Homo sapiens: one gene and its partners. The protein of the gene in region 2 interacts with the protein of the main gene of each other region in a biochemical or structural test. Each region holds a gene or a part of one and is shown on either strand. Other genes may lie near its edges.

What was found.
Region 1: the proteins of EPB41 (region 2) and SPTB form a complex in vitro, tested with the Homo sapiens proteins (one study listed by BioGRID).
Region 3: the proteins of EPB41 (region 2) and NUMA1 form a complex in vitro, tested with the Homo sapiens proteins (one study listed by BioGRID).
Region 4: the proteins of EPB41 (region 2) and CPAP form a complex in vitro, tested with the Homo sapiens proteins (one study listed by BioGRID).

Annotation. Positions count from the first base shown.
Region 1 is NC_000014.9:64,771,266-64,779,130, forward strand, and holds part of SPTB (spectrin beta chain, erythrocytic), read right to left. Parts: intron 4,487-7,865; coding exon of another isoform or gene 4,385-4,486; exon of another isoform or gene 4,154-4,384; intron 4,139-4,153; coding exon 3,860-4,138; intron 3,263-3,859; coding exon 3,132-3,262; intron 2,160-3,131; coding exon 1,955-2,159; intron 1,690-1,954; coding exon 1,315-1,689; intron 1-1,314.
Region 2 is NC_000001.11:28,909,205-28,917,805, reverse strand, and holds the start of EPB41 (protein 4.1), read right to left. Parts: upstream 3,238-8,601; 5' UTR 3,038-3,237; intron 1-3,037. UniProt on the Homo sapiens protein: Protein 4.1 is a major structural element of the erythrocyte membrane skeleton. It plays a key role in regulating membrane physical properties of mechanical stability and deformability by stabilizing spectrin-actin interaction. Recruits DLG1 to membranes.
Region 3 is NC_000011.10:72,001,866-72,007,909, forward strand, and holds the end of NUMA1 (nuclear mitotic apparatus protein 1), read right to left. Parts: exon of another isoform or gene 5,571-6,044; coding exon 5,324-5,570; exon of another isoform or gene 4,399-5,323; coding exon 4,170-4,398; exon of another isoform or gene 3,680-4,169; intron 3,505-3,679; coding exon 3,368-3,504; intron 2,952-3,367; coding exon 2,775-2,951; intron 2,477-2,774; coding exon 2,360-2,476; intron 2,235-2,359; coding exon 2,022-2,234; intron 1,674-2,021; coding exon 1,662-1,673; 3' UTR 999-1,661; downstream 1-998. UniProt on the Homo sapiens protein: Microtubule (MT)-binding protein that plays a role in the formation and maintenance of the spindle poles and the alignement and the segregation of chromosomes during mitotic cell division.
Region 4 is NC_000013.11:24,898,266-24,906,130, forward strand, and holds part of CPAP (centrosomal P4.1-associated protein), read right to left. Parts: coding exon 7,081-7,865; intron 5,794-7,080; coding exon 5,661-5,793; intron 1,320-5,660; coding exon 1,154-1,319; intron 1-1,153. UniProt on the Homo sapiens protein: Plays an important role in cell division and centrosome function by participating in centriole duplication. Inhibits microtubule nucleation from the centrosome. Involved in the regulation of slow processive growth of centriolar microtubules.

The DNA of each region.
Region 1 (7,865 bases), on a different chromosome or scaffold from region 2:
ACCCAGTGGGTGCTGTAGGAGAAGACTCCTTGCTTTAACACCTCTGCCTACCCAAGATACCTCTTGAACTTTGTGAAGGTTTGGGAGTGAGAGGAAATCCTGCCCTTTGATCTCCTCAACAATACACTAATGAGAGGAACTACATATCAGGCACTGTTCTAAACACTTTCTACTGATGAACTCTCTTCGTCTTTCCAACAAACCCAGGAAGGAGGTACTATTACTATTGCTGTTTCTGAGATGGGGAAAACGAGGCACAAGGAAGCTAAGTAACTGGTCCAGGGTCCTTCACACTAGTAAAGGGGTACAGCTGGGATTTGCACCGTGCTCCTGAGTCCCCGTTCTTAACCATTCTGTGTGCTGCCTCTCCAAGGAAGTGGTTGCACCAGATCCCCTGATTGAGGCTGGCCCTGGGGACAGTGAAACCTCACTCCTAAGACCTCAGTGGGGCTACACCTATCTCAGGGGCCCTGGCATCCCCAAATGCAACAGCCACACACCAGGCCCTCCACTCCAGCTGGAGGACACTTCCCTAAGAGGTCCCCTTTTGGATGAACCAGGGGCCCAGCCAACCCTGGTGTTCTGTCCCCAAGCCCTGCAGGGCTGGCCTGGGATTGCGCAGCCAGCCTACCTCTCCCTGCTGCACTGGAAGCTGGGGGAGCCCTCAGCAACAGGGGCCCCCTTGCATTTGCCCTTTCTATCACACCAAGCTCTGGGGCACCCTACGGATCTGCGGAGGGCACTCCAGTGATGGGGCAGGGGTCTGAACAGTAGAACTTGGGGGCTCTCCAGCTCCCATGTGGAAAGGCTGAAGTGCCCGGTGGCTAAGTATGTGGGGTCTATAGCTAGACTGCCAGGGTCTGAGCCCTGGCTCCACTTCGTACCTACATGTTCCTGGGAAACTTATGGGTCTTCTACCTCTCCCTTTTCTCATCTACAAAGTGCAGGGAATATTAGTAGCTGCCTCAGAGGACTGCCATGAGGGTCCAGCGGCTACATACATTGCTCAGAAGAGCACCTGGTGCTAGAAAAGTGCTGTGCGTGTGTCCACTAATAGTACTGCACAACTGGAGAAACTGCAACCGTATAGTATTGTATGCATTGGCCTTTTGTGAGGATTCAGTTTAAAGAATGACTTCTGAAGCTAAGGAACATCTGAAAGCCACTGCTCCCAGCCCTGAGCTCCTGGCTGTCTAAGGAGGCAAAACCTCCTGGCACTTATCCTAGAGGTTTTCCTGCTGACAGCCAGGTGGGGACTGACACCCAGGGCTCCTGGAAATTGGTAGCAGGTGGGCGGCAGGGGGCTGAAGGTACCTGGACACCCAGCAGGTGGAGCTCCCGCTCGAAGGCTGTGTGCACCCGGTGGAAGGACTCGGCCGTGCTGGCGTCCAGCCCCACGTCCTCGGGCAGCTCGCGGTGCTTCTCGTCGATGAGGCCCAGGATCTCGGCACCCGTGTAGAAGTAGCGGTGCAGGTCATAGGAGGCGGCCAGCAGCTGCATGCGCGTGTCAATGAGCTCCAGGAGGTCTGCCCACATCTCGTTCAGCCCGTCCTTCCACTCGGCGATGGTGGCCGCCTCGCTGTGGCCCGCGTCGATGAGTCGCTCGATGAAGGCATTCACATTGTCCACCCGCTCCTGCCCAATCGCCCCGGTCTCCCGGGCAAAGTCCCGGAACTTGTCCCGCAGAAGCTAGGCATGGGGCAGACAGAAATGTGGTTATGGGGGGCACAGGGGTTACAGGTGTCACCAGCTTAGCCAAAGACTTTCCCAGGCAGCAACTGCAGCTCCGGGAGCTGCGCTGTCACACCTTCCCCAGGGCAGGCCTGCATCGGCTGGTCCCGCCTCACACTGGGGAGGTTACGTCCTATGCAGCACTCTGTGTGTCTTGAGTGACGGCTGGCTGCGTCTACCGCATTAGAGAAAGACAAAAACAGCAGGAGTTGTGGCTACTCACAGTCACGTGGTCAAAGTCTTGCCCCATTTCCGGGGAAGAGGCCACTAGCTCCTTTTCTGAAATCCACTGCTCCAGGTCGTCGGTCTCCCGCTTGAGCTGGAACAGGTGGTACATGTTCTCCAGCTTGCGCTTGCGCTCTTCCGCCACGTCCTTCAGCCCTGCGTAGTGCTTGTCCACTTGCCCCTGAAGTCTGATGATCTGTTCCCTGGAATTCAAAACCAAAAAGGCCCTCAGAGACGGCAGCCACGAACCCAGAGCCGTGGCTCCAGGGAGCCAACATATGCCAACCACAGCCCCCTGGCAGGGATAGGTAGGGAGTGAAGCTCTGGAGAAATGACAGGGGCTTTGCCGGGGAAGAGCTGGGGAGAGAAGGGGCCACACCCTAGCCTCAGGGGATGACACACTGTGTCCTGGAATTCTGTCCTGGAGGGGTGCTTCCCATGGTGCCCCTCACTCTGGCAAGCTTACAGGGACAAGTGCAAATGGGGAACGCCTCCATTGTTCTTCCAGAGAGGCTGGGGGAGCAGCACTACCTGAGTGGGGCTCCCGCAGCAACAGCTCTGCTCAGCCCTCCAGGGAGGGAAAAGACATACTAGGGGCCCAGACAATGTGGCTCCCAGGGAAACCTCTGGGGTGGCTGCTGAGGACCCACAGTGGTGGGCACCCTAATGGCAGCTGAGGACAGGGCCATGGCTGGGGGCAGTGTGTGGTCTGTGGCCCAGTGGGCTTCCATTTATGCAGGATCCACAAAACCTCGCAGCCCATGTGGGCACAGGTTTCCACCTGCACTCCTACATCATGGTTCTGTCTGGACTGTGAAGTCCTGGAGACCTTCTGGACCATAAAAATAAAAGCTAAAGTAGTCTTCAGTGTCCCTTAGCATATTGTAACCCTTCGGAAAATTGGTGCTCTCAGGTCACCAAGAGGGTAGTTTTGCTAACCCCTTCTCTGATCATTTCGAAAACCAGGGCCTCGATGGCCCAGCTGGAAGTGATTCACACAAAACCAAGGCATAAAATGAAATTGGATCCATCACCAGTCCCGCAGCAATTTTCTCCAGCCCTATTTGATGGGAAAACTCTTTCCATTTTCCTTTTAAATCTGAAGGGACGTTGGCTGGTGGGCCCCTGGCTCAATCCCCATCTCCTGACCGAGTCACCACAGGGGGCGCACGCACCCCTCAGGGTGGCCTGCAGACAGCAGGCCCTGGGCCCGGCTGGCCAGCTGCTTGATGTTCCGGCCGTAGTCCTCCACCGCACGCTGCTGCCGCAAATGTCGCTTCAGCATCACAATGGCGCCCTCTTCATCCTAGGAGGCAGCAGACGGTCAGCGCCAGAGCTCAGTCTGGCCATGATCCCTCCCTTGGCAAGTTGTGCCCCCACTCCTGGAGGTGCCCGAGGGAGGAGGGGAGTAGGCTTGTGGGACACCCGCAGGAGAGCCACACATGCTTCCTTCCTGCCCTTCTGATTTCCCAGCAATGCCCGTGCCCTACCTTCCTCTCTGGACTCCCCTGATTCGTATCCGACATATACCCTTCCTTTTGTGCTCTAACCCCTGTCCCCATGAAAACATCCTATATCATTCCAGCTTTGAGAGACCCCCACCTGTCACCTCTCACCCCATCTCTTTCATAGCGTACAGAATCCAGGGTAAAGAAAAGTAGAGAACCCTTGGGTTAGAGCAAACCTAAGTGGGTAAACAGGAGGCACCTGGCTTCAGTGTGTGCCCTGCAGGGGTGTGTTCAAGGAGGCACCAAGGGAGGGCAGGGAGTCTGTGGGTTCCTTGTGCCCCTCCCCTGGCCTCACTCCTCACACAGTTGGACTCACAAGGCTCCCTACCGACAGCCAACCTCAACTCTTCCTCTCTGCCTGGGCACCCTGGCTGGTATCCCCTGCCCGAACAGACCTTGGGGATCTCATCGGAGATGACGTAGAGCTCCTGCTCGCCAATCCAGGCCTCAGCCTCGTCTGCATCCAGGTAGTACTGCTGTGCCTCGTTGGCGTCCCTCAGTCGCTGCAGCCTCCCGGCCGCTGCCTCCCGCAGCCTGTCCCAGGAGCTCTGCAGGTGCCCCAGGCGCTCCTCAAGGTCCTGGCAGTCGATCTCCGCCGCCTCCACCAGCTGCTGCCCTCTCTGCAGCACATCCTCAACCCGCGGCGTATGGCCCAGAATCTCATTCTGCAGTGTCTGCGGCCAGAAGGAAGGGCTCGGGGCAGGGCCTTCCCACCATGCGGGGGAGGCTGCTTCAGCAGTGGCAGCACAGCTCTGACACCCTTGGTCCCTCTCACCCCCGTTGCTAGAGCAGAGCAGGTGATGGCGATAAGAACTACCAATGACCTCTTGCGGGCTGCTAAGCACCTCATGTGCACCATTCTTGCACCCTCAGGTGGCCTGCTGAGATAAGCATGTGGAGACCAGCATGCAGCAGTGAAGTCACTCAGTGGCAGAGCCGGAGTTGAACACAGCTCCACCTGACCTGGCAGCCTGTGCTCTTGACTGTCCCCTATCTTCCTGTGCTTCAGCAGAGCTTGATTCCTTAGGTGTATGTGTTGGAAGGAAAAGAAAAATGGCCTTTTTGATACCTTATTCTAACAGCTTTTGCAGGATTTATGCAGGATCATTTACGCAGGATACGCCCAACCCAGCAGCTCAGGTGGGCACAGTTTTTGCCTTCCATCTAAAAGAACAGGTGACAGCAGCCCCTTGCTTACAGTCTCAGCTTTTGTTTTTCCCTACTTCTATTTCTCATATTTTTGTGAGCTTTGCATTAGTCCCTGTTTGAGCCTTTGGTCATGAACACAGCCTCTTCCTCCCACCCTGGTGGCTGGTCACCTTTTTCTTCAGGAGGCCCTGACACGTGTTACTTGTTTTCTGGGTCCTAAAGACTGGGCTAGCTGCTGCTGGTGTGTGGGCTCCTGAGCTCCATATACCTCACTACCTGTTTCTTCCCTCTCTATATAATTTTCCTGTGGCCTTTAAAATTGGAAGGCAGGGGCAAGAGCAGCCCACATGAGCAGCACAGTGATGGCCAGCATTTAAAATATGCACAAAATAACCACATCTACAAGTCACATAACCTGCTGAAATGCATTTTTACACTTTATGCTCAGAACCTCAATTTTTACAATTTCCTATAGTCTCTGCAGTTGCATTCAAACAACCCATGTTTTCAGCTCCATTTGCTTGTTTACTCTGAGATCTTATGACCTCTGCATGGTGCCCTAAAAATTAATTTCTTTTTTTTAAGATAGGGTCTCACTCTAGTCACCCAGGCTGGAGTGCAGTGGCACAATCAGCTCACTGAGCCTCAACTTCCCAGGCTCAGATGATTCTCCCACCTCAGCCTCCCAAGTAGCTTGGACTACAGGTATGTACCACCACATCTGGCTAATTTTTTGTATTTTTTGTAGAGATGGGCTTTTGCCATGTTGCCCAGGCTGGTCTCAAACTCCTGGGCTCAGGCGATCCACCCGCTTCGGCCTCCCAAAGTGCTGGGATTACGGGTGTGAACCACTGCGCCCGGCCTAAAAGGGTATTTCTTCCTTTTTAACCAATTACTTTCTAGTATCTGTGCAGGGTACTTACATTTAAAGTCTTCTTCCCTGTCTTCATTCATTCAACAACTATGTATTAAGTTCTTTTCTATGTACCAGACCCTGGTCTAGGTAATAGGGACAATATAGAAACAAGAGAAATGAAAATCCCTGCACTTTAAAGCTTACAACCTGGTAGAGGAAATAGAAGGTAAACATGCAAATAAATGAATAAACAAAGGCTGGGCCTTCCTCCCTGGGGGCTACGAGGAAAAGACAACAGTGGGATGGAGAATGTCTGCTGCGATGTGGCAGGAGCCACTTTAGCTAAGGGAGTCAGGGAGGGCCTCTCTGAGGATACGAAACTTGACCATGACATGAATGACGGGAGGGAGGCAACCACACAGAGATCTGGGGTTGAGTGTTCCTGGCAAGAGGACTGAACAAGTGCAAAGGCTCTGGGGTGGACATGAGCTGGGACCGTCTGAGGCCACAGAGAGGGCCAGAAGAGCTGGAATACTGTGAAGGAGGGCAAAGTGAGAAGAGCTGAGTTTCAGAAGCAGGCAGGGGTCAGGTCAGGCAAGAGTGGTTCTTAATCCTGATTGCCCACTGAATAATCCAGGGAAACAGATGCAGCTAGGGGCCTACCCCCAGAGATCCTAATTGATCTGAGGTGAGACCTGGGCATTCATCTGTCTAAAAGTTCCCTAGGTGATGTGAGTGTACAGCCAGGGGTGAGAGCCCTTCATGTACTACCTTGTGGAATTTGTTCTAATTGCAATGAATAGCCCTGGGAACAGTGGTCCCCAAAGTGCAGTCCTGAACCAGCAGCATCGGCATCACCTAGGATCTTGTTGGAAATGCAAATTATTAGGCTCTACCCCCAGAGCTTGATGCAGTAGGGATCTGGGGGTGGCACCTGGTTAAGTCGTGTAAACTCACCCAGAAGGCTTGTTAAAGGAGTTGCATATTGGAGTTTGACAACCATTGCAACAGAGGGTTTTAGGTGAGGAAATGATAAAATTGGATTTATGGTTTAGCCAGGTGAGCCTAAAATAGTCTTCATTAGGGCAGTCACGCTGTCCCAAGAGGCTGCCTTTCCCTTCTTGGTTAGGGGAACCCCATCCGTATTTGTCTTGCCCTTTTCCCGAAATAGCAACTGCCAGCCAGGGGAGTTAAAAACCTTTGAACAATAACACTTACAGAGGCTGCATAGAATCAAAAATCCTAGTGTTGGAAAGACTAGAGTTGGCTCATTTTACAATTAAGGAAACTGAGGTCCCAAGGATACCATGTCCTACCAGCCTTCCACCTTTAGCTGAAGGTTGTGGCATTAACTGAGGCTAGATTTCTATCATCTTCTAGCCCAGGTCCCTGCGTGTGGCTGCTGGAGCCTCTGCGACTAGATCATGTCAACCAGAAGCAAAGGGCCTAAGGCAGCTTTGAAGAAACTTCTCTGAATATAATCTAGGCCTCTGCACTGCTGCTGGGCTCACATGGTCCTGTGAGCAGATGTCAGCTGCTGCCAAGCTGGGGGAAGGGAGTGCTGTCTGCCATGACCTTCCTTCCTCAAGGAGCTGCAATACTAACCGGGCACTCTGGGACATGTCACTTTTATCTGGGATCTAAGTTCCTGGGCTCTCCTTGCTGACCCAGAGAGCATGCAGAGGGAGGGTCTCTCTGTCCAAGAAGGGTCTGTGGCCATTCCCCTGGCCGCTGCGACCCCACACAGCCAGCTTCCTTACATGATTCAGGCTCCCACTGCAGCCCTGACCCAAGAGGGAGTGCTTGGCATCTGCTCACATCCAGGATCCTGACCAGGGCCACAGGAGTTCCCAATCAGGGCTAAGCGAGTGCCAAAAAGCAGAGGGATGTTTGCTCCAAGGGCTCAGAGTCCAAAGTTAGTGGCTTCCTAATGGAATTTGAGCCCCACAAGTATCCTCATATGTCGAGAGAAATGGGGCCTACTTACCCCAAGGACACCACACATGCCAAGCTCAGCCCTGGAAGAGGGGCAAGGCAGTGTTGTGGGAGAGAGATCAGGAGTTACTGCCCTCCTCTCAGGCAGACCACTGGATACACCGAATACACAGCTACTGAAGCACATCAACCTCCAGGCCAGGCCCCCGAGATCCTGCATTCACCTGTGCCTGATGGAGGCTGAATGGCCCTGAATCCCCAACTACCTCCCCTCCTCTGTGATCCTCCCAGAATTTGCTCTGTAATCACAAAAACCTGCTCTTTCTGCTATAAGATTACCAATACGGTTTGGAGACCCCAAAGCTACCAACAAGAACAATAATCTGCTGTTGCTAGCCTTCTGCAGGTCAGGGCTGGGCCTACCCCCGTGGGGCCAGGTGGGGGTGAGGAGGGGTGGGTGG
Region 2 (8,601 bases):
AGTTTGAGACCAGCCTGGGAAACAATAGCAGGACCCCGTGTTTTAAAAACGAAAAAAAAAAGCTGGGCATGGTGGTGCACGTCTGTAGTCCCAGCTGCTCAGGAGGCTCAGGTGGGAGAATCACTTGAACCCAGGAGTTCAAGGCGGCAGTGAGCCAGGATCATGCCACTGCCCTCCAGCTTGGGCAACAAGGTAAGATCCCTGTCTCTAAAAACATATGTATACAGGGCCAGGCACGGTGGCTCATGCCTGTAATCCCAGCACTTTGGAAGGCCGAGGCGGGTGGATCACGAGGTCAAGAAATCGAGACCATACTGACCAACATGGTGAAACCCCAACTCTACTAAAAATACAAAAGTTAGGTGGGCATGATGGCAAGCGCCTGTAATCCCAGCTACTTGGGAGCCTGAGCCAGGAGAATTGCTTAAATCCAGGAGGTGGAGGTTGCAGTGAGCTGAGATCATGCCACTGCACTCCAGCCTGTGTGACAGAGTAAGACTCCATCTCAAAATAAATAAATAAATACACACACACACATACACACACACACACACACAGAGAGAGAGATGGCAAAGCAAGGGTTATTACAGAGTAGTTCTATTTGGTTGCACAATACAAAAAATAAGGAGAATAAAGGTGGAAAGGTAGATTGTAGCCATATTGCATAAGAACTTACAAGACATTTGGTATAAAACACTTAATAAATGTTGGGAGAGGCCGGGTGAGGTGGCTCACATCTGTAATCCCAGCACTTTGGGAGGCCCAGGGAGGAGGATCTCTTGAGTCCAGGAATTCAAGACCACCCTAGGCAACATAGTGAGACTGTCTCTACAAAAAATAAAAAGACATTAGCCAAGCATGGGGGCACACGCCTATAGTCCCAGCTACTAGGGAGGCTGAGGCAGGAGGATCACTTGAGCCCAGGAGTTTAAGGCTGCAGTGAGCCGTGATCATGCCACTGCACTCCAGCCTGGGTGACAGAATGAGACCCTGTTTAAAAAAAAAAAAAATTGTTGGGAGAATTTTGGTAAAACCTACAGATTAAAAACATTTATTTCTAAGCCTGAATTCAAACATACAAGGAAAAATGTATAGTTTTGTTGGTAGAAGACAGAGGAATCAGAAGGTTGGCATTCTGAACTTATGTTCAACAATGAGTTCACCTTTTTTTGAGACAGTTTTGCTCTGTTGCCCAGGTTGAAGTGCAGTGGTGCAATCTCGGCTCACTGCAACCTCCGCCTCCTAGGTTCAAGCGATTCTCCTGCCTCCACCTACTGAGTAGGTGGGATTACAGGCACATGCCACCACACCCAGCTACTTTTTTGCATTTTTAGTACAGATGGGGTTTCACCATGCTGGCCAGGCTAGTCTCGAACTCCTGACCTCAAGTGATCCACCCGCCTTGGCCTCCCAAAGTGCTGGGATTACAGGCGTGAGCCACCGTGCCCGACATAGTTCACTTTTAATAGTGCCAAAGATATACTGTACTTGTTTCCCCAGGTGTATGAATAATATCTATATTTACCTTAATTATAAGCTTCTTATAGAAAGCACACTGAATTAACTACTTTGATTCTAAGGCAATCTGGTGTTCAGTTATTACATCTATTTTTGAATCTGCCATTTATTGAGTGCTTACTGTACGCCAGATAGCATGTACGCTACATGGATTATATTAATAACACCCCAAACCAAAAATTTTACAACTGGCGAAGAACTGATTACACTTTCAATTTACAGAAAAGGAAAATGAAGAGTACATCAAGTTTCCATAAAAAGTAGGGGTTAGTGCTACATTAACAAAACTGGGACGGGAAGAAACATATACGGGCTATATATCCTGCTTTTGATTAAAGGGATCAAACCAACTAAAATTTTTGCCAGGACTGAGAATACAGAAAACAACAATGAGCAACAGCATTGACTACAGTACATCCTCAAGAGAGTATAAATCCACTATAATAATATCCAAGACACAAGACACAACCATTTCTTGCAATTTTCCCTAAAAACAGAAGGGAAGAAAATAGCAGCTGTGAAATCACCCAGACTACAAAAAAAAAAAAAAAAAAAAGCATCTGAAAAAAAAAAAGGAAAAAGAAAAAACTATCTCCTAATGAACAACTACATGCCAAAAAACAAGTCTCCACAGACTAGTCATTTATGGCAGGGTACAGGGTACAGTTAAAGAAACAACAGGATGACAGTCGCTATCATGTGGCCAGAAACCAGTCCATCAGCAATCTGTTTCACGTGAGATCACTTTTTCTCAAGAGAATGCCTGTTCTTGGGGAGCATGACCTGTTTTGGCAAAACCTCCCCAGGAATAATGGCCTGCTGGTCAATCTCGGAGGGCGAGCCCAGACCCGGCCTCTCCACAGGTACAGCAGCCCAGCGAGCACGGAGGAAGATTTCCAAGCCGACAGATGCGCGAACTGAAAAAGGAGGTCACGACGCTGAGAGAATAGATTTAACCCTCTGCTCGCTGGGAACCCAGAAGACTAAGGGGGAACATGTTTTTCAATGATGCAGGCGTCGGTGGCGGGAAGGCCTGCGAAGTCTTGCCAGGGCTCCCTGCAGTCCTCAGATTCCGCCTGACTTCTGCAGACAGCCCAGCTCCCTCGCCAGGAAGAAATCGCTCCGCGGCTGCACGCAACACCTTCACCGTCTGAAACCTGCGATTCTCCGCATTTGGTTTCCTCCCGAGGCTCCTGCACACCGCACCGTGATTGACGCACCCGAGGGGACCGTCAAAAATACATCTCAAGCCTAACTTTCCAACACTCCCGCGACGCAACCCCTTCCCCTTTCCTCAGCGGCTCTGGCCCGCCCCTCGCTCCTCGGGCCGCGTCCCGGCTGGCGACTCGGCGTGCACACGAGGCTCCTCCGCGGGAGAGCCCGCGCCCCGGCCCGGGGCCTGTCGGGGGTTGCAGACAAAGAGGCTGCAGCGCCGCCGCGGCCGCCAGGACCGTCCCCACGGGGACAGCTCCACGCCCACCGCCCCGGCTCCCGCGCCGCCGCCGCCGCCTCGCCTCACCGGTGGCTCCGGGGCCGGGCTCCTGCGCCCGCCACTGCTGCAGCCCGACGAACAATGGCAGGAGGAGGCGCCGGCGTCCGAGGCTCGGGCCCTCTGCGGCTCGCGGGCCCGCCGGCTGCTGCTGGCTGACTGACTAAACGCACCAGCGGAGGGAGGGAGCGAGCGAGCGACCCTGGCGCGCGCCCTCCCGCCTTCCCTCTGCGAGGCGAGGCCAGCCCGGCCCGCAGCCCGCCCGCCGGCCCGCGCCCCTCCCCCTCAGTTCGCCACAACATTGTAGTAAATTTCTATTGGGCCGCGCCGGAGGGAAGGAGGGGGCCGGGCCCGCGGCCCGTCCGCCCATTGGCTGAGGCCAACTTCTAGCTCCCCTTGTTTCCCCCCTCCCCTAGGCCGGTAAGGAGAGGAGAGGGGAACGAAAAAGAGAGAGGAAAAGGCAAGGGGCTGGCCGCGTGTGCGCACGCGCAAGTCGAACCCGGTCTGGAGCCGGGGTGTTCCGGGATCCCGCAGCACCCACGTGGGGCATGAGGCAGCTAGAGCCCTGGACGGTGAGGCCCTTTCCTCCTTCCAAGTAAGAGGCCGAGATTTGGAAGCCTCAGGGAAGTAACTCGCGTAGAGGTTGTAGCCAGGCTACCCCAACTGACTCCCCCTAAACGCTTAGTGACCTCGGGTAAGTCACTCAGCTTCTCTGTACCTCAGTTTCCCCATCCACTAGTTTGACTGTCTCTAGGCGCCCTTCCAACCCTGACATTCGATGAGACTTTACCTCTCGTGCCAGCTGTGTAAGGCCTGAAATGGAAGCTAAGTGTTGAGACCACGCCAAGATTGAACCTGTCTTCTGCATTTAAGGATCTCCTAATTCCCCCCTGGCAATCTCAACATTATAAAGACCTAGCTTCCGAGGTCTGGTCTCCAGATGAACTGAGGGTTGCTCTGACAATTGCTTAGTGTGTCTTTATTTCCTTCCAGAAGTGTCAGAGACCCCTTGACCCTTCCTACTCCCTGCTAGGCTGGTCTGTGAACAGGCTTCGGACCCACAGTGCAGAAAGAAGGCTTTTGTTTTAAGCATGATACCTAGAAGGTAAGATAGGATCTGGTGTTCTATTTTAGAGATGAGGAAACTGAAGCAGAGAGACTTAAAACTGACAGGATAAGAAGCCAGGCCATCTGACAGCAGAGTCTGTAGATGCCAGCTAGACATTCCTGATATCTAATCACAGCCCCTTCACGATCCCAGCACAGCCTCTGGAAACAGATTGCCTGGGTTCAATTCTTAGTCTCCAGCCTTTTCTAATGGTTTGATTTTCATTTTTCTTTTATTTATTTATTTATTTATTTGAGACGGAGTCTCGCTCTGTCACCAGGCTGGAGTGCGGTGCCGGAATCTCGGCTCACTGCAACCTCTGCCTCCCGGGTTCAAGCGATTCTCCTGCCTCAGCCTCCCGAGTAGCTGGGACTACAGGCGTGTACCACCACGCCCAGCTAATTTTTGTATTTTTAGTAGAGACGGGGTTTCACCGTGTTAGTCTCGATCTCCTGACCTCGTGATCCGCCCTTCTCGGCCTCCCAAAGTGCTGGGATTACAGGCTTGAGCCACCGCGCCCGGCTGTGCCTCATTTTTCAACACCATAAAAGGGGATAATATGTCCAAGTAGCTGGGACTCCCACCTATAGTGGGAGGCTGAGGTGGGAGGATTGCTCAAGCACAGGAGTTCAAGGCCACAGTGAGCTAGGATCATGCCATTCCACTCCAGCTTGGGCAACAGAGCAAGACTCCATCCCTAAAAACAAAAACGAGGGTTGGGGGAGGGAGAAGGATAATAATAGTTCCCACCTCACAGAGTTACTGTAAGAATTAGGCCAGGCATGGTGGCTCATGCCTGTAATCCCAGAACTTTGGGAGGCTGAGGCAGGCGGATCACCTGAGGTCAGGAGTTCGAGACCAGCCTGGCCAAATGGTGAAACCCCATCTCTACTAAAAATACAAAACTTAGCTGGGCCTGGTGGCAGGCACCTGTAATCTCAGTTATTCTCGGAGGTTGAGGCAGGAGAATCACTTGAACCCAGGAGGTGGAGGTTGCAGAGAGCCGAGATCATGCCATTGAACTCCAGGTTGGGTGACAAGAGCAAGACTCCATCTCAAAAAAAAGAAAAAGGAAAACAGAATTAAATGAGTTAAAATATGTAAAGGACTTAGAGCAGTGCCTAGCTCATAGTAAGATCTATGTGTGTTAATTATTATTACTATTCAGAGACTAAAATGTGGACTGAGAGGTGTGGAACTGGCAAATATAATAATATATTTGTTAAGCATGCAATTGTTGTTAGCACTGAGCTGAGCACGTTATGTAAATTGTCCATTTGAAACATCATAAAACCCCTTGAAAACCACCTGACTATACCATCTAAAACACCCTCCACTCAAACACCCTTATCCTGCTTTAATTTGCTTCATAGCACTTACCCTACTTGACTTTCTACTATATATTTATTATTTATTGTGCCTCTCAAATAAATTGCTGTAATCTAGACCCACTAGACTGCAAGCTCAGGAAGGCAGGGACTGTATCTGTATTCATCTCCCAGAACAGTATACGCTCAATAAATATTTGTTGAATGAGTTAATGAACATCCTCATTTTACATATAAGGAAACTGAGTCTTAGTGAGGTCAGGTGACTTGGCCAGGGTCATTCTGTGTATGAGGGGTGAAGCACCTGTTTTTTTTTGAGAAGGGGTTTCGCTCTTTTTGCCCAGGCTGGAGTGCAATGGCACGATCTCGCCTCACCTCACTGCAACCTCTGCCTCCCAGGTTCAAGCGATTCTCCTGCCTCAGCCTCGTGAGTAGCTGGGATTACAGGCATGTGCACCACGCCTGGCTAATTTTGTATTGTTAATAGAGATGGGGTTTCTCCATGTTGGTCAGGCTGGTCTCGAACCCCCAGCCTCAGGTGATCCACCCACCTCAGCATCCCAAAGTGCTGGGATTACAGGCATGAGCCACCATGCCTGGCCACACCTGTTCTTAAATACTCTGGTCTCCTGCCTCAAGTCCTCAGGTTCAGCTGTGCTTTTTATTCAGAGTTCTAGTCCTACCACCTCTGTGCCTCAGGCTTCCTTCACCAATCAGACAGGAAAATCTGGTACCTTGAAGGATGAGTATAGAAGACCAATTACCAGTGGTTTACCATCTCCACCACCACCAAGTTATCCAGCAAATTCAGATTCATGAAAGCCCAGTATTCTCTATGCCATGAAGTGCTAGCCAATGGCACATCTAATTGGATGCAAAGAATATGTAGCATTTAATAATCCTTACTCTGCAAATAAGTAGAGGTCTCAGGCTAACAGCAAAAGGCTAGACACAAGGCAGGTATGAACTACTCTGAAATTCAGAGTGCCATGCAATAACACACCATAATCCATTGACTCAGGCTTTAGAATCTGAAAGACCTGAATTCCAGTGCTGGCTTTTAATTCTTAGCCTGGAGATGAAAGGGCTTTGTAAACTGTAAAGTACTATCCACACATGAGGAATTTTTGTTATTTTAGACACACATCTTCAGTTGTTAGGCTAAGTGCCCAATCTCTGAGTGTTGCCAGGCCTATCACATAGGAAGATGTGGGGGTATAAGTAATGCCTAATATGAAGGTGGAAAAACTACCTTTACTCCTGGGCCCATCTGCCCTCTCAGACTTCTGCAAACCAGGTATCCAGTCCCAGCTCACCCTGCAGAGACTGCCATCAGGTACCAAGGGTAAAGGTCCCAAGCACCGTCTCTGAGGCTAATTTCCAAGGCAGAAACAGCTCTGCTCCATGCTCACATCTGGGTGGCAGCTGTGCTATGCCCCAAGCCCCAGGATGGGGTCCCTAAGGACCATCTCTATCTCGCCTGCCAGCTGAGCCCACCATTACCTCCCCACCCCCTACCCCTTGTGTTCCTTCCTAGGGAATACAGGCCCCGCTAGCTGCCTGTTAGCCCCTGGAGCAGTCAAGGGCAGTAAGCAAAAGAGAAAAAGAAAAAAAAAGACAGTGTGAAAGGGTCTTAATCCTTCCCCACAGCAAACTGAGCCCAAGCAAAAGCAAACACCAGCTGCACATAAGAGGGTGAAATTAGATGGTGAAATTAGGTGGTGACCAGTGGGGAAGGCCAGGGAGTGTAGATGAGGCCTCAGATGACCTGGTAGAGATGAGACTGGAAGAAAGCGGGGAGGGGCGGGGAAACCATACCCAAATCTGGGACGTGGGCGGATTAGGGACACAGCTGGCCTGAAGCCCTGTGTCTGTTGTGGAGGGTGGCAAGAGATTGAAGAGGGCTTTGAAAAGCTGGGCCCACCAACAAAGTGTTCTGAACAGTACTGTTGAATGAAAACTGATGCTGGTACCAAAAGTATATGAAGAGTAGTGCTTGCCATCCTGCCTATGGCAGGATAAAAAATCACAGTTATTTTAGACTTGTAAACACAAATGATAAATCAAACAGGCTATAATGGGATGGGAATTACCATTCATACAGTGGGATGGGGATTAATTTTACTAGTAGTACTTGAATTGTTCATAGAAAATTTAGAAACACAAGAAAAAATGTAAGTCACTATAAAGCCACCAGTCAAAAATAACTACCATCAATATTTTGGGACCTTCCCTTCTAGTACCTTTTCTTATACGTACACTTTTTTTTTTTTTTGAGACAGTGGTCTCACTCTGTTACCCAGGCTGGTGTACAGTAGCATGACCACAGCTCACTGCAGCCTCGACCTCCTGGGCTCAAGTGATGTGATCCTCCCACCTCAGCCTCCCAGGTAGCTGGGACTACAGGCATGCCATCATGTCCACCAAATTTTTTAATTTTTTGGTACAGACAGGGTCTCATAGTGTTACCCACACTGGTCTCGAACTCCTGGTCTCAAGCATGAGACACCACACCCACCCTTATGTATACTATCTATCTATCTATCTATTGTATTTATCTATTTTTGAGACAAGATCTCACTCTGTCACCCAAGCTGGAGTACAGTGGCACAATCATGGCTCACAGCAGCCTTTCCCTGAGCTCCAGCAATCCTGCCTCCTCAGCCTCCTGAGTAGCTGGGACTACAGGTATATGCCACCACACCCAGATAATTTTTTATTTTATTGTTGGTAGAGATGAGGTCTCCCTATGTTGTGGAGACTAGTCTTGAACTCCTGGGCTCAAGCAGTCCTCCCACCTTGGCCTCACAGAGTGCTGGGATTACAAGCGTGAGCCACTGCACCCAGCCTTATTTTTATTTTTTTATTTATTTTATTATTTATTTATTTTTTCAAGATATAGGGTCTCACTCTGTTGCCCAGGCTGGAGTGCAGCTGTGCAATTATAACTCACTGTAGCTTTGAACTCATGGGCTCAAGCAAACCACCCACCTCATCCTCCCAAGTAGCTGGGATTACAAGCACAGGCCACTGTACCTAGCTTCTTATTTGTGTACTTTTCAGTGTACATATATTAAGTCATATGAAATTGCTGATTTTATAGGTTAAAAATGATCAAATGTGAACAATTTCATATGTCTCAACCTAACGCTTTTTAA
Region 3 (6,044 bases), on a different chromosome or scaffold from region 2:
CAGCACAGGGCCAGCAGCAGCACAACCTTGACCAGAGCTTGGGTCCTACCTGTCTACCTGGAGTGAACAGTCCCTGACTGCCTGTAGGCTGCGTGGATGCGCAACACACCCCCTCCTTCTCTGCTTTGGGTCCCTTCTCTCACCAAATTCAAACTCCATTCCCACCTACCTAGAAAATCACAGCCTCCTTATAATGCCTCCTCCTCCTGCCATTCTCTCTCCACCTATCCATTAGCCTTCCTAACGTCCTACTCCTCACACTGCTCTACTGCTCAGAAACCACCAAGACTGTTGATGCCTTAGCCTTGCACTCCAGGGCCCTACCTGCATTTCCCACATGACTTTCTGGAAGCCTCCCAACTATTCTTGCTTTTCCCAGACAGCTCCCACTCCCATGTCTCTGCTCATTTAGTCCCGTCTTCCTCACCGCCCCAGCAGGGGAACGCTCAAGCCTGGTTGAAATGCTGCCTCTTCAGTGAAGTCATCCTCTTTCAGCTCTGGCCGCATTCTGCAGACTTCCTATCTTCGTGCTGTATGTTTTTTTTTTCCCCCTTCACTCTAATGGACTGTTCCAGGGAAGGGATGGGGGCAGCAGCTGCTTCGGATCCACACTGTATCTGTGTCATCCCCACATGGGTCCTCATAAAGGATTATTCAATGGAGGCATCCTGACATCTGTTCATTTAGGCTTCAGTTCCACTCCCAGGAACTTTGCCTGTCCCACGAGGGAGTATGGGAGAGAGGGACTGCCACACAGAAGCTGAAGACAACACCTGCTTCAGGGGAACACAGGCGCTTGAAAAAGAAAAGAGAGAACAGCCCATAATGCTCCCCGGGAGCAGAGGCCACTAATGGAGAGTGGGAAGAGCCTGGAAAGATGTGGCCTCAGGAAAAGGGATGAGAGAAAGGAGGTGGTATGGAAGACTCAGCAGGAACAAGGTAGGCTTCAAAGAGCCTATATTCCTCTTTTTCCCACACCGATCAAGTCAACTCAGTACTCACGGGAGAAAAATAGACTTTATTTACAAGTAATAACATTTAGAAAAGATCCATCCCCGGCCCTTAAAAACCTTCCCATCACTCCAAATCCCACCCCAGTGCAAGTCTGGGGAAGGTAGGGTGTGAGCTGCTGCTGAAGGCTGTCCCCCAACCCCACTCCTGAGACATAGGGCCCATCCGTCCTGGGAAAGAGCATCCTCTGGCAGGTGCTCCCACCAGGTCAGACCCAGTCCTGGACTTCAAGAGTGAGGGCCCCTGCTGGGCCCAGCCACCAGGACAGCAGGAACCAGGGCCTACTCCTCTTATGGTCCCTTCTAGATCCAGAGGCTAAGAGGAAGACTGGCCAGGCCCAAGGACCCAGCCATCAAAACCAGCCTCAAATCTGGTTGTGATGGAGAAGTGACTTTGCTTTAAGAAAAAAGGAGGCAAGGTAGGGAGAGCGCCCACACTGTCCATGCTCCAGGCCCCCTGGGCCAGCTCCGAGAAGGCGCCAGTGAAGGACCAGGGACCAGGCCAGGGTGCGGGCAGGCATCACTGTCTCTAGGGGTTTGGCTACTGTTGGCCTGGGAGCTGAGAGAAGGCACTGAGAGGGACAGTAGGCGGAGGACCAGGTGAGGTCAGCATCGGGGACACAGGTGGGGCCACTCACTGGTACTGGCCCTTTAGTGCTTTGCCTGAAAGAGACACAGTCACATGGCCAGATGAGAACTTGCGATACTAGCCTGCACCCACTGGCTGGGAAGATCTCTTCCTGCTCCCACGCCCCTGTCTGGATCCCCTCCCTTGTGAGCCCCAGGGTTATCAGTTGCTGGCTGTGCCTGAGCAGCTCTGGGTGCTCTCCATGAGAATGGGGCCATCTGTCTTCTCTCCTTGGAGAGGAGCTACCAGGACAGGGACACCTCTTACCCCACACCCTCCAGCAGCCTGGCGTGGCCCCATCTTGGATGCTACTTGGTGGGGCGGTCTGGGGGGTGCCCATGCTCTCATCGGGTTTCCCTCCCCCATCCTGCCAGTGCCTCTACCTTGCCCTTGGCTCGAGGGGTGGCACCAATGGCGGCAGCAGTGGCGGCGCTGGCTGTGGTGGTGGCAATGCGCGGAGAACGGCGGGTTCCACTGCGAGTGTTGGGGGAAGCCTTGGACAGGGCCTTCTTTGAGGCTCCCCGCCGCAGAAGGCTGTTCCCTAGCTTCTTGGGTGTGTTGAGGATGCTGAAGGCCATCGACTGGCGCCGGTCAGCCTGCAAGGAAGGGCTGTCAGACCGGGAGACCCAATGCTGCCTTCCCAGGCCAGCGTGCTGTGCCACGCTCTATCAGCAAGGTCCCGCCAGGGCGTCGCTTCATCCCCCTTCAGCCCCAGCCTCACCTGTTTAGTAGAAGCTGGAGCTGCTTTCTTCTGGGCCTCAGTAGTGCTCTGTTTGCGCCCTTCATGTCGGTCTCGGGGAGTCATGGGGCGTGGGAAACAGCTGGTGGCCTTCTTAGACTATGGAGAAGAGGACAGTTAGGCAGACAGTAGCAAGAGGAGTCACATCTGAAGCCAGGTGTCTTGTCCTCTCAGAGCTGAGTGGACCTTGTAAGTCAACGTGCAACCTGCTCCCCTTCCCAACTCTGGGCCAGATCCTTCCCTTCCCAACAGTTCCCATCCATGGGTCAGGCCCTTGGAGAGAGGGAAAGAGAGGGGGAAGTGAGGGAAGGAGAGAGAAGGCTCCCTTTAGTCCTTGGTGAGCTGGGCCTGACCTGAGCACAGTGCTGGAGTAACACCCAGGAGCCACCGCGCCTACCTCAGGAGTTCCAGGGCCCTGGTGGGGCTCTAGGGAGACCCGTTTGCGCTGCTGCCGGGTGGTGATGCCAGTGCCCTCGGCTATCTGGATTGGCTGCATGCTGGCTCGGCGCAGGGTCTCTTGGGGGTCTCCAGTTTTCATCTCCTCATCTGTGATGGTGCCCAGGCTCAGGGAAGGCTGCATGGGTGGAAGAGGTGGTCAGTGGACCATAGCTGTATGGAGATGGAGGAGGACCTGGGGCTGTCCCAGAACTCTACACTCGCCCGACACTTATGGTCGGGACCCTTCCTGCCTCACGAGGTAGAAAGACACAAGGCCTCCTTTCCTGTTCTGCTTTCTACCTAAGCCCTGGGCAAATGGCCACAAGCAGTGCAGTCCTGACCAGATTCCTCTCTGAGCTCCTGCCTACCCCAAGGGACTTCACCCCTGAGTGCCCTCCCAGCTGTCTGTTCCACCTGGAAACATGAGAAGGTCACCCTCCCCCTCCTCGGCCAGTCAGTGATCCAGGGCCCTAGTGCTCAGGCTAGATCAGCAGGTGGGATTCCAAGGGAGGGCAGGGATGGGAGGCCCTGCACAGTGACCCCAGGCCTCACCCTGGACTCCAGGGGATAGCAGGTCTTCAGATGTGGGGGGCACACTCGATTGCGCTGCTGCAGCTCTGCAATGCGGTTCCAGTCATCCAGCTGCTCAGGCTCATCCTGGCAAGTGCCCATGTAGAAGCTGTTCCTTCCTGTGGAAGGCAGGGAAGTGGGAACAAATGAGCCTGGAGTCGGCAGGTCACCTCCTGGCCCTGGCATCTTGCCAGCCTTTGCTGCCACCTACCCCATAAACTTGAAGCCCAGCACACCAGTCTGATTCAGTGCCGCAGGTGCAGGAGTACGGCACACAGACTATTTCTATCCTAGGGGCTTGCTCACCACCTTCTCCCTGGAGAGGGCAGAAGAGGTCACACGCAGAGACTGCTACTACATCTTACTCACCTGCCAAGGCTTGGTGGCCAACACCCAGAGGAACAAATTAAGGACCGGGAATTAATTCCCAGGGGCTCCCTGGTGCCCAAAGGACAAGAGCTTCCAAGAAGAGTCTGGCCAGCCTGGCCTTTCCAGCAGCCCATCACCGCCTGAGAAGGGCATGGAGGACTCCCCACAGCTAAGTGTCACAATTGTGCTGGGAATCCCGGGCCCTTAACTCTGGCTAAGAGTGCCCCCAACACAGCCAGCCCCTAGATGGGCAGGTAAGGAAGGCCCTGAGGCTGCAGGAAGGAGGGGCAGGTGGAGCTGGATGGTAGCAAGGAGGCCAGCCTTGGATTTTTAAAAAGCTTTCCTCTTTTCCCTGTGCCACGATCCACCTTCCAGTCTAATTTTGGGGTATAGTAAGTCCCTGTAGTCCCCTCACCTGGAGGGGCCCCACTGGACACCCCGGCCTGGGAACGACGAGCAGAACTGCGAGTGGTGGGGCGGTAGCCAGGCAAGCTGAGCAGGGCTGAGTTGCCATAATCGGGAGAACCCAGGCGAGCTAGAGACTGAGTAGAGGAGGTGGCTCGCAGGCTAGCCTGGGAAGCAGGAGCAGACCGCGTGCTGTAGAACGATGAGTTGGCGCTGTCTGGCTCTTCCACATCTAGCTTCTGGAAGACAGAGTGAATCTGTTGCAGTGTACAGTCCCTGGCACTGTACAGAAGCTTCCCATTCCCTTCCGAAGCCCTCAGATCCCACGGCACATCCATGTATTCCCAACTGCTTTGCAAAGGTCCTTAAAGTGTGTGTCTGCAAGAAATGGGCCTTGTCGACAGAAGCCCTCACAAGGTGGTGCTGATGTTGTCAAGACTCTTCTACGCATTTTTTTCATGGAGTCTATTCATAATGCTTTGAGGTAGGGAATGCAGAGTGTTTATCGGCCCATTTTGGAGATGAAGTGCAAAGAAATAAAGTGACTAGCCCCAAATCACACTGCTAGGAAGTATCAGAGCTGGGGCTAGGCCCCATGTCTCCTGACTAGTCAGGCTCATCCCACAGCCTCTGCTGTCCCTCAGTCCAAACTTCCAGGGCCCTTACCATGTTCCAGAACTTCCCCAACTTCTTGGTAGCAGGGGGCACCCTAAACACACAGGTCCCCCCTGCTGTACCAGGGGCCCCTCTCCCCTCCTCCCAAACCTCCCCTTCAAGATGTGGAAACAAAGGCAAGGGCCTGTAGCCTGTCAGGCAGTCCACTGGGCAGCAACAATGCCTCTCAGCTGCATGGGGCATGCTGGGAGGCACAGGATGGGCTGCAGCTTCGCCACGTTCTCTCCCTTCACCCTGCACAGGCTCAGTGCTACGCATGGAGAGAATGCTAGCCTTAGTCAGGAGGCAGGGATCTAATCCTAGCCCTGCCTTTTTCTTCAGAAGTGCCCTTAACCAAGTCACTGCCCTTTTTAAGACCTCTCAGCTTTCCCACTGTAACATGGACTGGCTGCTCATCCCTCCCTGCTCCTGACTGAGTGCCCAGTGCAAAGATGCCCTTGAGAGGAAGTGGGAATTGCTGCCCTGCAGCCCCTGTCCCAGCAGCCTGACCTTGGTCATGGTGATGTTGATGATCTGCGTGGTGCGCCGACGAGCGGAGCGGGTCTTACGACCCGAGTCCAGGAAGACGTCTCCCAGGGAGTCCAGGCTGCTCTCCAGGGGGGCCTGACTCCGAGCAGGGATGGGAGTGAAGTAGAGACTCTCCAGGGATTCTACCTTGGGGGGCAGGCGCTGGGAGATAGGTGAGGCTGGTTCTCCAGGGACGCTGGTGCCGTCTGGCTGGGTACGAGGCAGCTTGCTATGGAAAGGAAACCTGCTGAGGTACAGTCCTTCACGCTAGAAGGCATTTTGTCCAGCCCTTTTTGAAAGTGACCATTTCCCATCCTTACTACAAGCAGATGAGGTCAAGCAGCCCATCTCTCTGATTTTTCAGAGGTACCAAGGAAAGCACTTGACCTGGGCCTTCCTTTCAGTCCACTCCCCTGGCTTCTCCTAATAGCTCCTCATAGTGGCAATGCCCAGACCCAGATGTCCCATCCCCACCAGATGCCCATGGCTGCTTCACAGCAAACACGTCCCAATCTAAGCCCACTTCTCTGTTCTTCCTCCTGCATCTCCCATTTCAGTGAATAGGAACGCCCCCCACTCAGGCCCCCAAGCCATGAACGTGGGCATAATCCAATGTCGTCCTGCTTGGCGAGCCCAATCACCAAGCTTCCTGAACAGCTCCTAACCACACCCCACTCCATGCTCATGTCCTTTCCCTGGTCTG
Region 4 (7,865 bases), on a different chromosome or scaffold from region 2:
TGTCTGGGATTTCACTTTTTAAATTCCAGATTAAAAAGCAAAAAAAGAGTACAGCGGGGAGAGAGATGAAATTAGACAAAATGATCACTGGTAAAATATGGGAATTCATTCTGTTCTTGCTACTTTTATGTATTTTTGAAACTTTCTATAATAAAAAATTATTTTCAAAAAACAACTGAATAGGTGGCCGGAGCAAGGGTTGGGGAGGAATTTCACCACCCATCTTTTTGTAACTTTTGAATGATAATATATTTATATTACCTTTTGAAATAAAAGTTTTAATATTGTCAACATCTAACATATTAGATTTAATAAACTAAGCATTAACCAAAACATAATGGTACGTTTCTTCCCACAAAAATAAAGAAGGAGAATTAAAGACCCTGAACACCATGCTATTCAATAACTCAAGCTGTACGTGTGCAGGTGAGATTGCTCAAGGATGGCTGCATGAGACAGGAAGAAAGCAAAGGATGGAACTCAAAAATGCTAGTAATTAAAATACAGACAGTGGAAGGTGCATTTTATACTAGAAGCAATGGATAGCCATTTTAAATTTCTCTTTTGATAAGTCTCAACTTTGATGAAGTCCAATATATCCATTTTTTCTTTTATAGTTAGTTGTGTCTTCTCTTAGTAATCTTCGTATATGCCAATGTCGTAAATAAATTCACCTATTTTTTTCTAGAAGGTTTATAGTTTTAGCATGTCCACTTCTAACTATGAAATGAACAAGACTGATAATCTGGCCTATCAGTTTATAAGTTTTAGAATTAAACACCTGGTTATTTACAGCCATAAATTATGATAAATGAACAGAACTAACAATATTTGGTGGGTGGTAGGTCAAAAAGATTAACACAACATAATGCTGGTGAATTTCCAACTCCAGGCTTGTTAATTCATCCATGACATTATCGTGGTCTTTTCTAGGAAGACTTTACTAGTAAGAAAAGAACTGAAATCTTCTACTCTTTAAAAGTCAGACTACCAAAGATATTCCTGATACACTGTCTCAGACAGATTATTTGCTGAATGAATGAATAATGGATTGATACACAGTTTTGCTTTGACATAAGAAATAACTCTGAGATGCTTACAAGATTGTCACCTTTACTAACTTACATGAATATAACATAAAGAACTAGCATACCTGTATTTCTTCACGTTCCTTTTTATCTGGAAAAGTTCTTGCAGCTGTAGTATACTTTTCAAAAACTTTACGTTCCTTTTGTAGCTTCCTCATCTCCTCCTTTTTAAACTCTTCTATTCGAGCTAATTCTTTTGCTTTCTGTTGTTCGAAGTCTGCAATTTCTTTCCTAAAATGACCAAACTATGTTATCACCTAAGGAGACCATCTCAGTGCAGTGATGTGCAGAACCTGCTGACAGGCTAGTAACTGCTAGTCCTAGTGAATTCATCTTCAATCCATAGGCCTGAAATAACAGCCAATCCACTCACTAAAGCATTCATCCAATAAGCATTCATTGGGTGCCTACGATGAATCAGGCATTCGACGAAGTAGTGGGGAAACCACAGTGAAAAAAACAAACATTCTAGCTGGGCACAGTGGCTCAAGTCTATAATCCCAACACTGGGAGGCTGAGGCAGGCTTGAGCCCAGGAATTCAAGGTTATAATGAGCTGTGATCGCACCACTGTATTTCAGCCTGGGCGACACAGACAGACTCTGTCTCAAAAAAAAAAAAATGTATTCCCATGCAGCTTCTTACATTCTATTGGAAGACAGACGATAATAAAGATAAATAAGTACATGGAATATTAGAAGCATTAAAGAGAAATAAAGCAAGGAAGAAGTTTAGAAAATATCAGAGTGGGAGGGTGAAACTGTGTTGTATGTGAGGGCTTATCTTGCTGAGATAACATGAAGGAAACCTGAAGAAAATGAGAGAGCCAGTCACAAGGGTGTCCACACACAGCAGTACAGGCAGAAGGAGCAGCAAGTGCCAAGGCCCTGAGGCAAGAATGTGCCTGAGGTGTTCAAAGAACAGCCAGGAGGCCAGTGTGACTAAAACACAGTGAGCAAAGGATGGGTAGCAGGAGAAGGTGTCAAAAAAGGAGGAGACAGGCCAGGCACGGTGGCTCACTCCTGTAATTCCAGCACTTTGGGAGGCCGAGGCGGGCAGATCAGGCCAGGAGCTGGACCTGAGGTCAGGAGTTTGAGACCAGCCTGACCAACATGGAGAAATCCCGTCTTTACTGAAAATACAAAATTAGCCAGGCATGGTGGCGAATGCCTGTAATCCCAGCTACTCGGGAGGCTGAGGCAAGAGAATCACCTGGGAGGTAGAGGTTGCAGTGAGCCGAGATCGCACCATTGCACACCAGCCTGGGCAACAAGAGTGAAACTCCATCTCAAAAAAAAAGAGGAAGGAGGCCTTGATCAGATGAACCGTCCAAACGCAGGCTGGCTCTGGATGTGTGTGAAGAGCACAGACGCGGGCAGCAGAGAGACCTGCTAGGAAGTGAATTTAATAACCAGAGAAAGCCAATGGGGTCCTGGTGGAGAGTGGCAGCTCTGAGGCAGTGAAGCAGTCGGGTTAGAAATGGACTGAGAGAGCAAGAGAAGACTCAAGCATGACTCCAAGATTTTCCACTGGGCAAATGGAAGAGCAGACTCATGTGCTGAGACAGGGAAGAAGAAGAGAAGAGTAAGTTCAGGAGGGAACGTCAGGAGCTCACTTTTTCTAAATGATCAATTTAAACACTCATCAGCTCTCCAGGTAGAGAGAACAACGAGGCAGTGGGATAGGAGATGTGGGCGAGAGAACTGGATCTGGGGCGTAACAGCATTTAAAGCCTTGAGACCGGACAAGTCTCTCCCTGCCTCACTGGAGGGAGAGCAGACAGAAAAGGTAAAAGACATTCTTACTGACTATTCAAAATGTCGACCGTGTGCACACAATCATATAGTCAAAGCAAACACTGGGGGAGGAATACTTGTGGCACATTTGAGAAAGTTAAATATCCTGATAAATGAGCAAAGATCACAAAGAAAGTTACAAAATAAACACAAATGACCACTAAATATAAAAGCATGCTCAACTTTATCAATAATTAAATAAATACAAACTTTAGCAGGTGAAAGATGGCATAATTATCAGGTTGGCAAGATTTGAAAGACTGCTAACGCTCAACTCCAGTGATGGGGAAAGGGGTGAGAAGAAGCCTCAGATGCTGACTGGGGCAATGGACATTCTTAAAATTTATCACAAGGAAGTAGATTTTTAAATAAAAAGTGTCTTATACATATGACGATATTCCCTGCAGAATAATTTCTAATGTGGAAAATTCTAAACAAGCTAAATTTCCATTAACTGATTAGTCACAGTGGCATTCATATAATACAGTCATTTCAAGGATACAGAAGACTAGGGCGTGCTAATAGGTAAGATGTCTATTATGTTGTTGAAATGAAAAGCAAGGCTGGACATCGTAGCTCATGCCTGTAAGCCCAGAACTTTGGGAGGCCAAGGCAGGGGGATCACTTGAGCCCAGGAGTTCAAGACCAGCCTGGGGAACATGGCAAAACCCCGTATCTACCAAAAATACAAAAATTAGCTGGGCGTGGTGGTGCGTGCCTGTAGTCCCCGCTACGCAGGAGGCTGAGGTGGAGGATGGTTTGAGCCCAGGAGGCAGAGGTTGCAGTGAGCCAAGATTGTACCATTGTACTCCAGTCTGGGTGATAAAGCCAGACCCTGTCTCAAAAAAATAAAAATAAAATAAAAAGCAGATTAAAGAGCCCATACAGTAGAGCCCAGGGCTCTACTGAACCACACTGCCTAGGCTGGCACTGAGGCTCTCTGTCACTGACTAAGGAGGTAAACTTAAAAAACTTGCTTCTCAGTGCATCAGTTTCCTCATCTGTCAATTGGGAAGGATAACACAATGTCTAAATTCGAGGACTGAATTTTGCTTAGAACAAAGCAAAACCGAAATAGGGAAAATGCTAAAAAAAAACAAAAAACAACAACAAAAAAACAAAAACCCAGCCATTATCTTATGACTTAAATGTTCTTTAAAAGAAAAAGATGTCCGTTTTGAAATAATGAAGCAGAGACGTTTTAAAAGTGATCTTGGGTGGAGAACGGATTGGAATAAGTTCCACATTTTACCCATAACTACTATGATAAGCATACATTTACAGTATGTATCAGCTGAAAAACAAAGATGTTTCCATTAAAAAGTAACAAATTTTCAGAATTTGATTTTTAAGCATACTGCAGATTATAGTATAGTAACCGAATTTCCTTTTTAAGTGGATTAATAGCTGTCTATAAACCTTTATCTGGAACTTAGGGGCCAGATGTGCTTTAGAATTCATATTTTTCAGGTTTTAGAAAAGAAATACGGAAGAGATGTTAAGGAAGATGGTGGAGTAGGAAGCTCCAACAATCAGTCCCTCCACCAAAGCAGCTATTGAACTAGCAGCACCTGTCAGAATCAACCACTTCGGAACTCTGGACACTAACGAAAGACTTGCAGCATCCTGGGGAGTGCTAAAGAACAAAGAGGCTGGGAAATTTGGGTGAATTTCAGCATTTGCATAGCAGCTACCATCCCCTAGATCCCATCCCGCAGCAGGCAGCCATGGGAACTACAGTTGTATGAATTTCTCCTCAAACATTAAAATAACAAATACCAAAAAACAAAGAAATACGGTGTGTATGTGACATATAATATCCCCAACAAGACCCAGAGCAACACCTGGAATAAAAAGTACTAGTATGTTCCTGCAACAGAACTTAGTACTATTCACAAGTACAATTAAAAAATATGTCTACGTAAAATTTATATAGAGAGAAATAATAAATATAACATATATAAATAGCCTCATGTAAGTTCAGTTCAAGTTTTGCTAACCAATAAAGTCAGGTAAGATCATGACCTAGGGTAGGAGACGATATGTCATACTATCGACTGCTGTAGGTGGAGTTGTGTCCTCTAAAACAATATGTTGAAGTCCCAATCCCTGTGAATAGTGCCTTTGCAGATACAATTAAGATGCCAGTTAAGATGACGTTATACTGGAGTAGGGTGGGCCCTTAAACCAATATGACCCTATCCTTAAAAGAGGCACCAAGACAAACACACACAGAGGAGAATGCCATGTGAAGACACACACAGAGGGAAGATGGCCATGTGACCACAGAGGCAGAGACTGGAGTGATGTAGCTGCAATCCAAGAAATACCAACGTGTGCCTGAAACCACCAGAAGCTGGAGGAGCCAGCATGGCCCGCCTTGCTGATGCCCGGACTTTGGACTTACAGCCTCCAGAATCACAAGAAAATACATTTCTATTGTTTAAAGCCACCCAGTTGCTGGTACTTTGTTACAGCAGCCCAGAGAAACCAATACACTAACTAGCCAAAGTACCACTTGAAGGTACCATAGCTCCAAACTGTTTTTCAAATTTTAATTTATGATCTCTCCACTAAGAAAAATTCCCCTTTGTACACATCATTGACTACCCTGGGTCATTTTATTCAGTAAAAAAAACTTATATGATACAGATTTCACCTCCTTTTCAATTATATTTGTTTGACTGATTTAAATTGTTTCAGACTGTTTATAGATGGTCTTAAAGGTATAACTGAGTCACTGCATATTTTTTCCCAACTTACAGACCCAAACGTACCTGAGTTTTTCCAAGGCACTTTCTCGTTCAATGCGAAGTTTAGCTAAAGATGCGTTCTCAGCTTTAAACTTTTCTATTTCTGTTTCCAATTCAATAATTTTCTCTCTCAAAACCTGGGATCGAGCATTGTCACCTATGAAATAGGCCATAAATACTGAACTTCAAAAAAGGCATTACTGCAGCAAAAACACTAGCTAGCTAGTAACACTAAGAGCCAAGAATATGGCAAACATCTGTGCTATTAAAATGCATTAGAAACAATGCTTCAAACATGAAAAGGAAAAAAAATTAAACCTAACTTTCCTGAGGAAATCAGTGGGAATTTATGGAAGAATTAATCTACCTCAAAAGAGTATCGACCTGACAAGGAATCAACATGATACATAAAAAGAAATCATTCAAATCAATTTTTCAAAGACGAATATATATAAATAGCTTAAGAATAAGTAATCCACAAGAGATCTGAAGAGCTAATCAACACCAAAATCAAAGTTTACCCCTACTATTAATCAAATAAATGCAAATTGTTTTCCCTTTATCAAATTTGCTATTTAAAATGTAAAATAGCCAGTGCTTCTGTCCTTCAAGCATTTTTATCAATTAGTACTTTTTTAGAAACTAAATGTGATCCACAAGGCTAAAGAAATGAGCTAAGTTATACAACTCTGTCATATTAAAACTACATAGAAAAAATGACTGGAATGAAATATCCCAAAATGGCATAGCAGTTACTTTTGGGTAGTTAAGTTGTAAATATTTTTGCTTCTATGCTTTTTAAGCTTCCAAACTTTGTACAAAAAAATTACTTTTAAAATCAGAATTTTTGAAAATTAACGTTATAATTTCTATTTTAATTTCTATTTTAAAGCACCTATGCTCTGCTAGTTTATAATATAATATAATGGAAAGGAATCTTTCAGGGTGAGTTTAAAAAGTCCGTTACATCAACAGAAATACTACACATCCGTTAAATGGAATGAGGTAGGTGTGTACATGCGTTAGAACAATCTTCAAAATTTATCATAAGCAAGGTGCAGGACAGTATACAAAAAGAGTCTTTTCATTTGTATAGAAAGGTAATTATATACAAACTGACACATATGCTTTTATATGCACGGACTCTTTAGAATACACAAACGAAATGGTAATACTGGTACCTCTAGGAAGGGGTACTTGAACCAGGTCTGGGGAAGAAAGGAAACGTAGAAGCTTTGATGTTATCTCACTTTATTAAAAACTAATTAATTTTAAAGCCTCATATAGACCCATAAAATAAATCAAATTTTTACAAATCACCCATTAATTTGACTTAATTCTATTGAGCAATAAGGAAAGTTAGGATTTTAAGCATTCTGACAGCATACTGATTAATGTTAAATTTCTAACATTCTGATACATATTTTATAATGCTCTGACTCACCAGGTGGTTGGTCTTGACTTATGTTTAACTTGAGTTCATTTCCCAAGTGTGAATCTGACTTTGGTTTTGGTTTCAAAGAAGGAAAGAATTTCATCATCAGCTCCGATGTAGGAGGACTTCTGCTCCTCCTGGACTTGCTCAAGTCTTCTCCCCTCTTGACTGGTGCAATCTTCCTTTTTATTGTTTTGTCCAGGATACCTATTTCATTATTAGGGTAGCATGTCTGCGGCGTCCCATAAGTGGATTCATTCCCAAGAACAACATCATGGTTACACAAATTCTCTTCAAGGTCAGTCCAAGTTCTTTCATCATCAAAGTCCATTTTACTCAGACTTAGGGATGAGGATCTCGAGGGCTCAGACACTTTATGTTTTATGCTTTCCATGATAGACTCATCGCTACTGTAATCTTTATCAGACAAATCCAGATCAACATCTCTCCTTTTATCTTCTTGGGTCCTGGTGTCCTTAAAAGGCCCCTTATCATCACAGACTTGTGGGCTATCCTCTCTGCTGCTGATGCCCCTCTCTCTATCCTCAGTCGATGGTTTTATGGTAACATCAAGCTGTTCCTCAGAGTCAGTGCTACTGTCACTATTTGGAACACCTTCATCGTCACGTGCATTCCATTCAGTCTGATTTTCAGAAGTGCTCTTTTGGACGGCTTTCCTGATTTTACAAGGCTGTTCCCTCAATTCATCAGCTGAGGACAATGAATGAAGTTGTTTGGGTGCGACTTCACACTCACTCTCCTTCTCACGTGCAGTGTGGTCCAAATCCTCACTG